Homo sapiens: one gene and its partners. The protein of the gene in region 1 purifies or fractionates together with the protein of each later gene. This does not show direct contact. Each region holds a gene or a part of one and is shown in the gene's direction. Other genes may lie near its edges.

Region 1 (2,938 bases):
GGAGTCAACCCTTTACCACACAATCCCTGTCCTGTGTCCCCAGGATGTTTTTGTTTCCGGATGATGTCTTGTGGGTTCCAAGAAGTTAATGGACCGAGAGCCAGTGAAGCTGCTGGTGCGAAGGCTGGAGTCAGGTGTCCTCCGGGGACTCACCACCCGCCCGAGAGGGGAGAGACACATGCGATTCTGGAAGCTGAGAGCATTGCTTATTGTTGATTCCTTGGTTGCCGTGCTGAGTCCTGCTTTAAGGAAGCAGGTGATAATCTAATAGTCATTTACTAAAGAAAGTGCATCTTAGGCCGGGCGTGGTGGCTCACGCCTGTAATCCCAGCACTTTGGGAGGCCAAGACGGGCGGGTCATGAGGTCAGGAGATCGAGACCATCCTGGCTAACACGGTGAAACTACATCTCTACTAAAAGTACAAAAAAATTAGCTGGGCGTGGTGGCGGGCGCCTGTAGTCCCAGCTACTAGGGAGGCTGAGGCAGGAGAACGGCGTGAACCCAGGAGGCAGAGCTTGCAGTGAGCCAAGATCATGCCGCTGCAGTCCAGCCTGGGCAACAGAGCGAGACTGTCTAAAAAAAAAAAAAAAAAAAAAGTCCTTTTCTGGCCCCGTATTGATCTCATCTCCGTCTGAGCCTTCAGTAGTGTGGATGGTGGGTGGTTTCCTGCCTCCCACAGCTCACGAGGCTCAGCTGTCCTCCATCCTTCCCCCTGTCCTTTGGTGCCTCTGTTTGCAAGATGTGCAGAAACACCAGAGGGCCAGAGGAGACCCTCCTTTTACTGAATGCTGGCAGCCTCCTGAGAACCACGTCTGCCAGCAGTAGAGAGCAGAGAGTGTGGACGAGCATGGGCGACTGAGGTCCCAAATGGCGCGAGCCGCTGGGCCCTCCTGCTTGTGCCGATGTCTCAGCCTCGATTGAAGCTGGAAGAAACCAAGGACAATGTGTCCTTTAAAAGTGTAAGGTTAGAAGGTGCCCTGACTCCAGCCGACCTGGAAAAGGACGTGTCCTGCATATCTGGAGGTGGCCCACACGGTCCGGGAAAGATCGGCTGCCTTGCCTGCATCCCAGGGCGCTTCCCGGCCTCCATTAAGAGGTGACCATTGCATCCACGTGATTTCTTTTGCTCCACTATTTCCAGGCACAGTGCAACTGACTCCCTCTTGAAGCTAGAATGCCCTGCACACCCGGGATGGACTTCTCTCCCCTTTCAAAGATCGAGTGAAGTTTGCAAATGTGAAAGGAAGGAATTGCATTTCCAGTGGTAACCTTTGAAGGGGAATGAAATTGTCACAGGACGTCAGGAGCCACGTGGGGGAGCCCGGTGTCCTCTGAGTCTCAACGCCCCTTGCTTCCCACTTGGTGACGGTCGATGGCTGTGTCCAGCGGTGAACGCTTTACCACAGGACTCTACGGTGGGGTAGGCAGCGCCACTTCAATGTGAAGACAAATGAACTGGCGTCTCTTGAGATAGGCCCCTGCCTCCAGGACCTCTCAGGCCCCGGGCCCTGGTTACTGCCGTGGAAGCTGCCTGTTCAGACGTCATCTCTATCACCCCTTGAAGGGAGACAGAGAGGTGTTTGCGAGTTGGATGTTTTATCTTGTCTTTCCTGATTCTTTGTTAGAACACCCCCAGGGCTTGGTTTTTGTTCTCAACCTGTGATTAGAAATAAGATCCTAAAGTGTCAGATCTGGAAGGCCCATGAGAGCTGAGGAGATCAAATGCCCGGAGCTCGGGAGATCAGATGACCTGGGGTGTCTGGAGCCAGTGGTGGCCTCATCTGCAGCATCTTCCTCTGTCCTGCCCACCACAGAGTCCCTGCTGGCCCCGGGGGGCCCCTCCTCCGCCACAGGGCCCCTGAGCATTGCTGCGTTTGTTTCTCCAGCTCCTCCTTCCTGCAGAAGCAGTTCCCAGAGGGGCAATTTCTCCAGCCTGCCTGGTTGGTTGTGTTGATTGGTTATAGTTGCTCTTTCAGGTGACCGCAGACCCTCTGAAGGCTGTGGCCGTGGGTGTGGCTCTATGGCCACCTCTCTCTCTTCTCCTCTCCCAGGTCGCGTCTCCTTCTTCACCTCGGGGTCCGAGAACCTACACCGCGTGGAGAAGGTCCACTGGGGCACCCGTTACGCCATCACCATCGCCTTCAGCTGCAACCCCGACCATGGCATCGAGGACCCAGCGTTCCCGTAGCCAGCAGCCGGGCCAAGGTAACTTCAGGAGGGCCCGTGTGGAGGCAGCCGCGCCAGTCGTGCACCCACCCCCACGTCCACCCGCTCCTGTTGCACAGAGTGCCTTAGGAATTCTCTGATTTTGATTTGCTGACGTGTTAATCTTTTCATCTGTGAGTAAATGAAGGGAACCAGCTTTTCACTTCTCCAGCATCATGTGTGCTTGGGCTGTAGGCCTGGGAGCCTGAGGTGGAGGCCAGGAAAGGGACCCAGCAGGACGGGGCACAAGTCCCCATCTGTGAATGGACGGGACTCATCCACCCAGGTTCAGCAACCCCCCGGGACTCGTCCAGGTTCAGCAACCCCCCGGCCCATCAAAGACTGGCTAAAGCATCAGCCATAAATGGGGACAAACGTGGGGCCAGCAGCTTCTGTTCGGGGTCTCGGCATCAGCAAACCGCAGCAGCTTTGGAGAAGGGTCCGTGAGTGGCGGCTCTGGAGGCAGCAACGGGGTCCTTTGGGGTGGGTGGGAGTTCTGCTGGATTCAGGTGGAGGTGAACATCTGCCGTTCCCACAGCCCTGCGTGCACCCCCAATGCTGCTGGCCCACAAATCACCGTGGGCCACGGCCCCACCACACCAGGCTTGGCCCTGTCAGCGGCCAGCATCCCAAGGGCCAGGGTCCGAGTGTCCTCACCAAGGAGGCTCTTGGCGTCGCTGTGCCGGCTCCCATGGGCCTTCTGCTGGGTCGAGGGTAGGTCTCCTCCTCCCC
Region 2 (4,222 bases), on another chromosome or scaffold:
TTCTAATAGAAATTAAAATAAAAAATAAAGAAAATTTCTTTATACATTGAGCTGAAATTAAACCCCACTGTGGCTTCCACCAATTTTTGCTCTCTGGAGCAACTCAAAACACATCTAAATCCTCTTCTACAAGCGAATCCTTTAAATATTTGAAAATACCTATGTCTCTCTTCTGTGCTCTTCTGGTACCAATAGTTTAAATGGGTAACAGTAGACTTTGTTTTATTCAATCTTTTAAAAAGCAAATAAAAAGTAAGACATGCTGGGTGCGGTGGCTCACGCCTGTAATCGCAGCACTTTGGGAGGCGGAGGTGGGCTGATCACGAGGTCAGGAGTTCGAGACTAGCCAGACCAACATGGTGAAACCCCGCCTCTACTAAAAATACAAAAATTAGCCAGATGTGGTGCACGCCTGTAACTCCAGCTACTCGGGAGGCTGCGGCCAGAGAATTGCTTGAACCCAGGAGACAAAGTTTGCAGTGAGCCGAGATCACGCCACTGCACTCCAGCCTGGGAGACAGAGCGAGACTCCGTCTCAAAAACAAAAAGTAAGACATTACCAATATGATGCCAACCCTCATGCACTCATCCCCAACCCCACACTTCTCTTCTCCCACCCCTTCTATCTGCTTTTGTATTTATTTAGCCTATGGGATCCCAATGCAGAGGAGCCCTGGTGGACGCATTTATAGTGCAGCGATGAATAGAAGACAGTGATAGTCTTATACTGGAGTTGAAATGTGATAAACATTTATACACTGTGTTTATAAGTCGTGTAACTCTGGCCAATTTATCTGGTCTTTCTAAGCTCACTTTCCTCGTCTGTAAAATGGGAAGAATAATCATACTTATTGCGCTGGTTGTTATGGGGATTAAGCAAGATAATTCTCTAAAGCTTTGGCACTTGGCGCTGAAAGTAGCCATTCCATGTCTTCTTTCCCGCCCCGCCTCTTGTGCTCCCCACCGCTTTCGTGATGTCCGCAGTTGCCCACCTGCCTCTACAATAAAAAACGCATCCCTCCTCCTGCAGGGTCCACCGCACCGGGAAGCCCTGTCTGTATCAGTTACCAACCACAATTGCAGTGAGTACGAATCGTGGCTTTCCCACAGTCAGGAAAGGCAAGGGAGACCGACGACCCGCTTCTCTAGGAGTAAGTAAAGATTAAAGGTAGTTCGCGGTATAGCCTAGGCAGGGATTAACCCGTGGTCCCAGCGCTCCTGCTATTTGCATTCCAAAGCAGACACCTCATGCGCTCAACCCCGCCCGCAGGCGGCTCCCGCAGTCTAAGGGACCTGGCGCGAGTCCGGGAAGCGGAGGGCGCAGCTGCGCAGGGAAGGGGGCCGGGGGCGGGACCAGGGCGCGCGTTCCGGTCCCGGGGCGTGGCCTCCCGCAGGTGAGTACGCTGCTCCTTCGGTTTCCCTGAAACCTAACCCGCCCTGGGGAGGCGCGCAGCAGAGGCTCCGATTCGGGGCAGGTGAGAGGCTGACTTTCTCTCGGTGCGTCCAGTGGAGCTCTGAGTTTCGAATCGGCGGCGGCGGATTCCCCGCGCGCCCGGCGTCGGGGCTTCCAGGAGGATGCGGAGCCCCAGCGCGGCGTGGCTGCTGGGGGCCGCCATCCTGCTAGCAGCCTCTCTCTCCTGCAGTGGCACCATCCAAGGTGAGAAACCTGGCCAAGGAGGGCTCTTATCTCTGAGGAGCTGGGGTCCTGGGCACGCTGGGCAGACGGTGGGATCCGGGCAGGTGTGCGAAGGCTGTTCTGCTGCCGGCACCCATCTCTACGAATCCCTTAGCCTCCCCTTGGTGGCTTTGATGTGAGGTCTCTGCGCCAAGGAGGCACCCAGGTGGGACATGCGGGAGCAGCTGAAGTCAGCGGAGCCGGGCAGAGGCAGAGATTTCCCCAAAGACCCCACTTCCCGTAGAGGCTGTCATGCTGGGCACCTCCAGGCCCCAGCGTGGGTTCGGGGAAAGGGAGGGAAGGAAGGAGTAGCTGTGTCTAAAGGGTACGCAGAGGACCTAGTCCCCTCCCCGGGCTTGGTTGCTTTGTAAACACTAAGTCATTAAGAGCTTTTTGCCAACTCCGGAGACTTCCTCCGCTGGCCCCGCGGGGCCGGTGGGGTTAGCGAGCTGATTGCGCAGGGCAGGGCGGAGTGGGTGGGAACCCGCGGCCCGGGAGCCTTCTAGGTTGTTTTTTGCGTCCCTCTCCAACTGCTGGAAGCCTTTCTTCGGGTTCTGGCCCCTGCGTTCGAGACCCACCCGGGTCCCGCTGCTCCTGGCACCCACAGTGGAAGGCCCGGGGTATGAAAGTCAGGGCCGGTCCCTGATGGGTTCTGGTGGTAATGAGCGCTCAGGCCCGTTGGGCGCCACGAGGATTTACGAGCGGAACTTTTTGGACCCTGCCTTATATTTGACCAGTTGACCCTCTGGGCCTGGGGTTCCGGGACTTTCCTAGTGTGCCACCCGGAGCGGCCACTGGCTGCCACCCAGGTCTGCAGGCCAGAGGCTGGCTGGCCTGGGAACAGAGCAGCACTTGCGCCCGGCCGTCGCGTTCCTTGGATGTGCTGCTCCGGGTGTGCTCGAACTTGTATTGCTGGGAGTGTGTTCTTCCGGGCCCAGCAGGCCTCGCTGTGGCCGTGGGGGATGTTTGACCTGCGATCGCGCCACTGTGATCCTAACCGAGGCCCCTCTGTTTGGGGCAGCCTGGGTAGCAAAGGGAGCTTTTAATTTCCCTCAGAAATGCGCATTTCTCACTTTTATCCTCCTCTTCATAAAGACGAAGTAAAAGAGCAAGTCACAGTGGGTTGGAATTAGATGGAAGAATGTGATTCTTTTCCCTCTGCAGTTAGGGAAAAGGGTGTTAATGGTGTAAGCTTGAAAACTGTGCACCGCTGGTATATTTTTTTTTCTTAATCAGCATCAGAATAAAGGCATTTAGTTCCAGGAAGTATTGAAAACTGTAATGGACACCTCTCCTCTATGTCCTTTAAAGTTGGAAACTTAAAATTCAGGAGCAAAGGTTAGTATGTGCAAACTTTAAAAAAATACATGTTGGTATAGCTGATTCAACATCTTTATGATTCAGAGATCCCTGTAGGAAGCATGCCCCGATTATTTGTCTTGTTCTTGTTTACTACTCTTGGGGGATTGGGAGATCCCTGGATTATAAGGCGAACTTGATTTAACAATAAGGAAAAATCAGGTTACTTGTTAACTATAGCCACTTAATATTGCACCTTGTTCCTCATCCTCCCCCCACCATACTTTTATTCCCTTGCAAAGTAACTTTCCCAAAGGGTTAGTGAAGTAACACTGACAATTGATTTAGGCAGATGGAGCTTTCCTCCCACCTTAAAACTAAATTGATTTTAATAAGAAATACAGTGTTAGCAAAGCTTTTCTGCCCTCAGGGTGGGTCTTTGCTCACTCGCTTTTTAGCCGGTCCTTCTGCGTGCCCCTCAGGTGGCTGCAGGGCCGATTTGGGGTTTGATTTTCTTCCCAAAGCCTCACTCCAAAAGACTGCCTCATAGAAACGAACTCAGCCGAGATCACAACCTTCTCAGGGTACAGGTGAAGGACACTGAATTGAGGAGGCAAGGCAAGGAAAACACTTGGAAATCAGGGCTTCTCTTTCCCTTTACAATAGTAATTGATAATTATTTGGGTAAACATGCTTAATATGTGTCCTCACTGCATCGTTAACTCCTGGAGGCAGGGGGCCCTACCATCCTTTCCATCACGTCTAGCATAGTCTCATCACCTACGGGACCTCAGTAAATAGCAAATGAATGAAGTGAGGAGTCTTGCCCAGAGTACCCTGGCTGGTCCATGTGGTGTTCATTTCAGTCAGCTTCTCTCTGCCACTTACTTATTTTTTTCCACCATGTTACAGGCCTAGGTCATTCCATTTATCTTTTGGAGACTGGAACTTCTGTTTTCTTTATAATTGGTTTGGTGGTTTTTTTTTGTTTTTTTGGTTTTTTGGGTTTTTTTTTTTTTTGACTCTCATTCGGTTGCCCAGGCTTGAGTGCAGTGGTGCAATTTTGGCTCATTGCAACCTCCACCTCTCCCGGGCTCAAGGAAGTCTCCTGCTGCAGCCTCCCGAGTAGCTGGGACGACAGGCACGCACCACCACCCCCAGCTAATTTTTGTATTTTTAGTAGAGACAGGGTTTCACCATATTGGTCAGGCTGATCTCAAACTCCTGACCTCAGGTGATCCACCCACC
Region 3 (3,500 bases), on another chromosome or scaffold:
TACACAGATGGGGGAAAAGAAACCGTAATGTTGGACTCAGTGCTTTGACGGTGTATCCTCAGCCTACAGGAGAAACAACAACCTGAAAGCAAAACTGGCACCCTTCTTAGTAGGTTTGATTTTCATAGTGGTGTGGGTATATCCATTCTGAAATGACTTTGTGTGAATTGTGAGATTAGACAGATAAGAAGTGTGTTAATAGTGTTGTAGCCAGGGTGCTCACTGAGGAAGGAGGGAGATATAAGGATGGAATAGGGGAAGGCAAGGAAGAATCTGGAGGGGTTGAATTGGAATTGGAGGTATCAGTGTAACTCATGCTTTCATTTATATATATATTTGGTATATATTATGTTAAATTATGCACCGTAATTTGTAAAACATACTCTACACATAACAGTTATTTCTTAGCACCTCATTAGCAGTGAGCTTTCTTAGTGCCCAGATGTTGGTTTCTCAATACTGTTGCATCTTAAAGGAGCTAGAGAACCTTGGAGAAATGACTGAATATGGGATGGGGACAGGGAAAAATACACAATAAGCCTGAAACGTGTTCTTGTGTTAGAACGCAAGTGAGTGGTGAAAAGTGGTGGGGGCATGGCAGATGTACTCAGGGGCCAACTTGAAGGAGTTGCAGCCAAGTCTGGGACCATTTAGGCATCAGAATAAATAAAGACAAGCATGGATTATACAAGGAACAAAATAGGCATCCAGGACTCACCATTGATAATAAGTACATAACTATATGTATGAGTTTCTTAGGCCTGCTGTAGCAAAATGCCATAAACGGGGTGACCTAAAAACCAGAAATGTATTCTCCCACAGTTTTAGAGGCTAGAAGTCCAAAATCAAGGTGGCGGCAGGGCCACGATCCCTCCCAGGGCTCTAGGGGAGAAAACTTTTTTGCCTCTTTTAGTTCCTGGTGGCTCATGGTGCCCTTGGTTTGGAGCTATATCACTTTGACTTCTATCGCCATTTTCACATGACCTTTTATTGTAAGGACACCAGTGATTGGATTTAGGGACCACTGTAAATACAGGATGATTTAATCTCATGTTCCTTATTACTACTGGAAAGACTATTTCCAAATAAGGTCACTTTCTGAGCTTCTGGGTGGATAGGGAAACACTAATTTACTACAAAACCTAAGTGGGAGGGGTGGGGAAGAGAGGGCACTTCCTAGAGCAAAGTGCCAACTGATAAATGGGAGGCGAGTTGGGAATAATCACATTTTACAGCAATAACTGTACGGATTGATTTGGGCAGGCGTCATGAATGAGTGCTAAACTCATTAAAGAAGACATGTTTGATGAGGAGCAGGAAATGTCTGTGGTCTCAAAGGATTTCCCCACAGATTCCTTGTTGGCAAGGGACAGTTGCTAACTGTAGACTGGCGAGATTTGCATCCCAATACCTGGGTGGTCCAGGTTAATGCCACAGATTTGGGCAGATGGATGCCGTCCTTCCCAAGAGCATACATCATTTAGGTTGCTTTCTATCTGGGGAAGAGAGTCTGATTATGAGCAAAAATCAGCAAACGAAATGGAGGGACATTCTATGAAACAATGGTCTGTAGCAAAAATTGTCGAGGACATGAGCGATGAAACAGGGCAGGCCAGGTCCAGCTTGAAGAAGACCACAGGGGCCTGGTGTGGTGGCTCACGCCTGTAATCCTAGCACTTTGGGAGGCTGAGGCCAGCGGATCACAAGGTCAGGAATTCAAGACCAGCCTGGCCAACATGGTGAAACCTCGTCCTCACTAAAAATACAAAAGTTAGCCGGGCGTGGTGACATGTGCCTGTAATTCCAGCTACTAGGGAGGCTGAAGCAGGAGAATCACTTGAACCCGGGAGGTGGAGGCTGCAGTGAGCCGAGATCGTGCCACTACACTCCAGTCTGGGCAGCAGAGCAACACCCTGTCTCAAAAATGAAAGAGAAGAGAAGAGAAGAGAAAGGAGGGCAGGGCGGGGCTGGGCGGGGTGGGGAGACAGTACAATACAGTACACCACAGGGTAGGTAGAGAAGACAGTACAATACAATACACCACAGGGACAAGGCAGTCCAGTGCATGTGCTGGCCCTGACCCTGTGCTGGAGGGAAAAACATGCTGTCGTGGATACTAACGGAACCACTGAGGAAATTGGAAGGTGAGCGTAAGTTATTTAAACGTGTTGTCAGACTTGTCTTTCCTGAGTTTGTTAATTGTGCAGAGGTGGTGTAAGAGGATGTCTGTACTCATAGGACATACACGCTGCCATGTTAAAGGATAAAGGGGCTTGATGTCTCCAGCCTACTATTGTCATCTCAGACCATGATAAAGCCCATGGGGCAAGAGTGACACATTAGTGAACCTGGGCAAAGAGTAGAGGGAAGTTTCATGCACCATTCTTGTAACTTCTCTGTAAAGGCGAAATGGTTTCAAAGTAAAGAATTAAGGCCGGGCACGGTGGCTCACGCCTGTAATCCCAGCACTTCTGGAGGCTGAGGCGGGGGGATCACGAGGTCAGCAGATCGAGACCATCTTGGCTAACACGGTGAAACCCCGTCTCTACTAAAAATACAAAAAATTAGCTGGGCACGGTGGTGGGCGCCTGTAGTCCCAGCTACTTGGGAGGCTGAGGCAGGAGAATGGTGTGAACCCAGGAGGCGGAGCTTGCAGTGAGCCGAGATAGCGCCATGGCAGTCTGGCCTGGGTGAAAGAGCGAGACTCCATCTCAAAAAAAAAAAAAAAAAAAAGAATTAAAAATGTTAAATTCTAACAATGGATGGCTGAAGCCAGTGCAATGAACAATGGAGTTTAGCACATGCTGTTAAAAGAAAGACTCAAGGCCCGGCGAGGTGGTGGCTCACGCCTGTAATCCCAGCACTTTGGGAGGCTGAGGAAGGTGAATCACCTGAGGTCAGGGGTTCAAGACCAGCCTGTCCAAAATGGTGAAACCCCATCTCTACTAAAAATACAAAAATTAGCCGGGGGTGGGGGCTGGGTGCCTGTAATCCCAACTACTCGGGAGGCCGAGACAGAGACAGGAGGATCACTTGGACCCAGGAGGCAGAGGTCACAGTGAGCGGAGATCGAGCCACTGCACTCTAGCCTGGGTGACAGAGCAAGACTCTGTCTCAAGAAAAAAAAAAAAAAAGAATTGCACGTTATGATTTTATTGGAAATGGTGTCACAGGGACTGAGGATGGATGCGATCCAGGTGCTTTTGAGGCCAGACAGCATTTCATTGAAGGGACTGAAAATCTCTGTCTTTGTCTAGTTTCTGGATTGCCCCAAGTTTTCTGATTTTTCTTTCTTAAGATTTTTATTATAGAAATTCCAACACACATAAAATTAGACGACTGCAGTGAACCGCTGTATATTTTTCACTCAGCTTCAACAGTTGCCACGTTCATTTCGTTTCATTTCCCCCGGCCTACTTAACAGTCCCCAGACAGCCTTAATTGTTTACCTGAAAATACTTCAGCATGAATGGTAAGAACTGTTTTTTTCACACCATCTC
Region 4 (3,500 bases), on another chromosome or scaffold:
CTCTGTACCCATAATTCCCCATTCTCCTTCTCCCAGTCCCTGGCAACCACCATTCTACCTTCTGTCTCTATGAATTTCACTACTCTAAGTACCTCATGTAAATGGAATCAAAATGTATTTGTCTTTTTGTAGTTGGCTTATTTCCCCTAGCATAATGTCCACAAGGTACATTAACGTTGTCACATGTGTCACTTTCCTTTCTTTTTAATGCTGAATAGCATTCCATTGTATGTATTTACCACATTTTGTTTATTCTTCTATATGTTGATTGGACAATTGGTTTGCTTCCACATTTTTGCTGTTGTGAATAATGCTACCATGAACATTGATGTACAAGAATCTGTTTAAGTCAATACTTTTAATTCTTCTTAGTATACACCCAGAAGTTGAATTGCTAGATCATATGATAATTCTGCTTAATATTTTTTGTTTTCCTCAGCAACTACATTATTTTACATTTCTACCAGCAATTCATAAGTGTTCTAATTTCTCCACATCCTCACCAACACTTGTTACTTTTGATGGGGGAGCATTTTTGTTTTTGTTTTTATGATAGGCACCTAATGGGTGTTAGATATCTTTGTTTTTATTTGCACTTCCCTAATGATTAGTCATGCTGAACATATACTTATTGTACTTATTGGTCAGTTGTGTATATTCTTTGGAGAAATATTTATTCAAGTCCTTTGCCTGTTTTTTAATTTAATCAAGGTGTTTTTTGTTGTTGTTGAGTGATGGGCTGTTGTAATTCTCTTAAATGTACTTTTAAAATGGTTAGAACAATTCAGAAACTCAGTTGTAAATTCAAGTGGTTGAGAATGTTAGAGTTGGAATTGGCTATGACTCAATCTTATGGCCTTGGGCAAGTTTAGTCTCTTTGTCATTTTGTCTCTTCAACTATAAAGTGACAAGATTAGAATATAAGTCATTCGGGAGCTGTATTTTACAGAGATCTAGGGAGCAGGTTTTTTTTTTCATATCTACATATTGAGAAAAGATCCTAAAACCCCCTATACTAATGGAAGTTACATTACCATTTCCTTCTTCTCTCCCTACCTACACTTAAAATTACATAGTAATAATATATCTTTATAGTGGAATTGATTGCTGAAGTATTCAATCATTAAAAGAGTTTGAGTGATTTCATCTATTCACAATAAATTTAGGGGCCTCTTTGATCTCAAATTTACCACAGTTTAGGAGTTTATTGATTTTATCAATAGCTTTGGGGTTTATTTGAACTGGTTCATTACTGTTGTGAGATATTGACAGCATTATATACTCATAAATGCCTTCTTGACTATCTGTCTCTTTAAGAACATCTATTTTAAGTACATGTTGAAATCATACATAGTCTCCAGATGACAGCATAGCAATAGAAACTTCTGTGTTTTGTTCTCTGGTGGGGAGACTTCTTCTATTAGATACTTACCTTATATACCTCTTACTGTGTTTTACTATCCCAGAGTATTTGATAATTAATCTGTAGAATTCTATACATGACACATAACAGTTGCTTCTGCAAGCCACATATGTTCTATAACATGAAGACTCTCAGACCATATGCCTTCAAACATATAACTGTAGTAGAGTCCTTTGTAACCACTTTAGTTGAAACCACATAACTAATCATAAAGGTCAAAGTGGATAATCCTAAAAACAAAAACCTATGTACCTTAAATATTTTATTTTAACCTAAAGGATATAAATATATATTCATTGACAATCAGTCTTTTTTAAAGCTAAATCTTTTATTTGTGTATGGATTTCTGAGCTCCACATTTTCTATCCTGGATAAATTACACTACAGTGCATCCTATATAATTTCCAGCTTAGTTTTTTTAAAAAAAAACAATTTATTAAATCATGTAAATTACATTAACAAGTAAAACTGGCATAAATAGATTGGGGACAAACATAGTGACTTGGTAAAAATACAGCTCATCTGGTGGGAGCAAAAACGCATGAGTGCAATAGAGACAGTGTTAAAAACACAGAAGAGAAATGGCCATGTATATGCTGATGTTAAAGAAAAATGGCGTAACAGCCAAGGCCGGGCATGGTGGCTCACACCTGTAATCCCAGCACTTTGGGAGGTTGAGGCGGGCGGATCACCTGCGGTCAGGAGTTTGAGACCAGCCTGGCCAACATGGTGAAACCCCGTCTCTATTAAAAATACAAAAATTAGCCAGGCATATTGGCACACGCCTGTAATTCCAGCTACTTGGGGGCTGAGGCATGAGAATTGCTTGAAACTGGGAGGTGGAGGTTGCAGTGAGCCTAGATCGCACCATTGCTCTCTAACCTGGGTGACAGAGTGAGACTGTCTAAAAAAAAAAAAATGATCTAACCAAAAAACTAAAATTATAAGTTTTTCTGATATTTATACTTTTAAAAAATAATTCATTAGAAGCCCAAACCTCAGCATCACACAATATACCCATGTAACAAACCTGCACATATACCCCAAATCTAAAATTTAATTTAATTTAAAAATGATAACATTGGCAGAAAACATCAAAGGAAGAATCTATACAAATGACCTTAACAGCTTTTAGGTATCTTCCATGCTAGTGGTTAGTGGTTCCTGACATATATAAAGAGTATATAAATTCATATGTGAAATAGGTAGACCAAAAAAAACCCAAAATATATATGTACGTGTAATGCATACATATACATCTTATCTATATATGTACTACTGACTTTCAGATATGTGAGACTGCTTAGTGTACCTAACAAAATAAAATTAGTTCAAAAAGCAGTTTTTTAATTCATTGTGCTTTTTTTTTGTTGTAATCTACATTTTCTTAATGAATGGACACTAAAATTATAGCTGCTAACTTACGGAAATCTCAAAAATGTCTTGTGCTTGATTTAAAGTTAAAACTATTACTCCACATTTGTGATACTTTTTTTCTTTCTATGCGTTAATGTGTAGGGGTTGGTGTGTGCTGGATTGGCTGATATGGCCAGACCTGCAGAAAAACTTAGCACAGCTCAATCTGCTGTTTTGATGGCTACAGGTAAATTAAATAAATATCTTCTGTGTTTCTTGTAGAACATAAATGATTTTTGTTTTCTTTTATATCAGTTTATTTAGTGGCTTAGTGTTTGAAATACACCCACACACAAAGGAATTAACAGTATTATGTCTAGGAAGTTATTAAGTTATGGATGGAGGAGTCACAGAAAGAATAAGTATCTGAATGGGCTTTTGCTTTTCAGGTTTTTGCCATGAACATATTTTTATAAGTGGGAAGAAAATTACAGTTAATAGTCACTTTAAAGATTCCTCTTTCATGTAAGAATTGAGTATTTTCTGTGACACTAAGTTACAGAAACATTGAAAATTCAGAGTATAGCATTTCTTTGTCCCTCATCCTACATTATTGTTGTAATTACTTTACTCAATATTAAGTATTCACTGAAGTTATTGAAGCAGTATGTATTCTTTTTAAAGTAACATTTTGTTTCAACAGGGTTTATTTGGTCAAGAT

The links. The genes of interacting proteins can lie anywhere in the genome.
Region 2: the proteins of OGFOD3 (region 1) and F2RL1 purify together in Homo sapiens (affinity purification with mass spectrometry; one large-scale study listed by BioGRID and IntAct). This does not show direct contact.
Region 3: the proteins of OGFOD3 (region 1) and ROR2 purify together in Homo sapiens (affinity purification with mass spectrometry; one large-scale study listed by BioGRID and IntAct). This does not show direct contact.
Region 4: the proteins of OGFOD3 (region 1) and MPC2 purify together in Homo sapiens (affinity purification with mass spectrometry; 2 studies listed by BioGRID and IntAct, with this or other methods). This does not show direct contact.

What each region holds. Positions count from the first base shown.
Region 1 is NC_000017.11:82,391,649-82,394,586, reverse strand, and holds part of OGFOD3 (2-oxoglutarate and iron-dependent oxygenase domain-containing protein 3), read left to right. Parts: intron 1-43; coding exon of another isoform or gene 44-216; exon of another isoform or gene 217-256; intron 257-2,052; coding exon 2,053-2,189; 3' UTR 2,190-2,938.
Region 2 is NC_000005.10:76,817,608-76,821,829, forward strand, and holds the start of F2RL1 (proteinase-activated receptor 2 preproprotein), read left to right. Parts: upstream 1-1,422; 5' UTR 1,423-1,575; coding exon 1,576-1,657; intron 1,658-4,222. UniProt on the Homo sapiens protein: Receptor for trypsin and trypsin-like enzymes coupled to G proteins.
Region 3 is NC_000009.12:91,940,229-91,943,728, reverse strand, and holds part of ROR2 (tyrosine-protein kinase transmembrane receptor ROR2 isoform 1 precursor), read left to right. Parts: intron 1-3,500. UniProt on the Homo sapiens protein: Tyrosine-protein kinase receptor which may be involved in the early formation of the chondrocytes. It seems to be required for cartilage and growth plate development. Phosphorylates YWHAB, leading to induction of osteogenesis and bone formation.
Region 4 is NC_000001.11:167,920,073-167,923,572, reverse strand, and holds part of MPC2 (mitochondrial pyruvate carrier 2), read left to right. Parts: intron 1-2,941; coding exon 2,942-3,026; intron 3,027-3,482; coding exon 3,483-3,500. UniProt on the Homo sapiens protein: Mediates the uptake of pyruvate into mitochondria.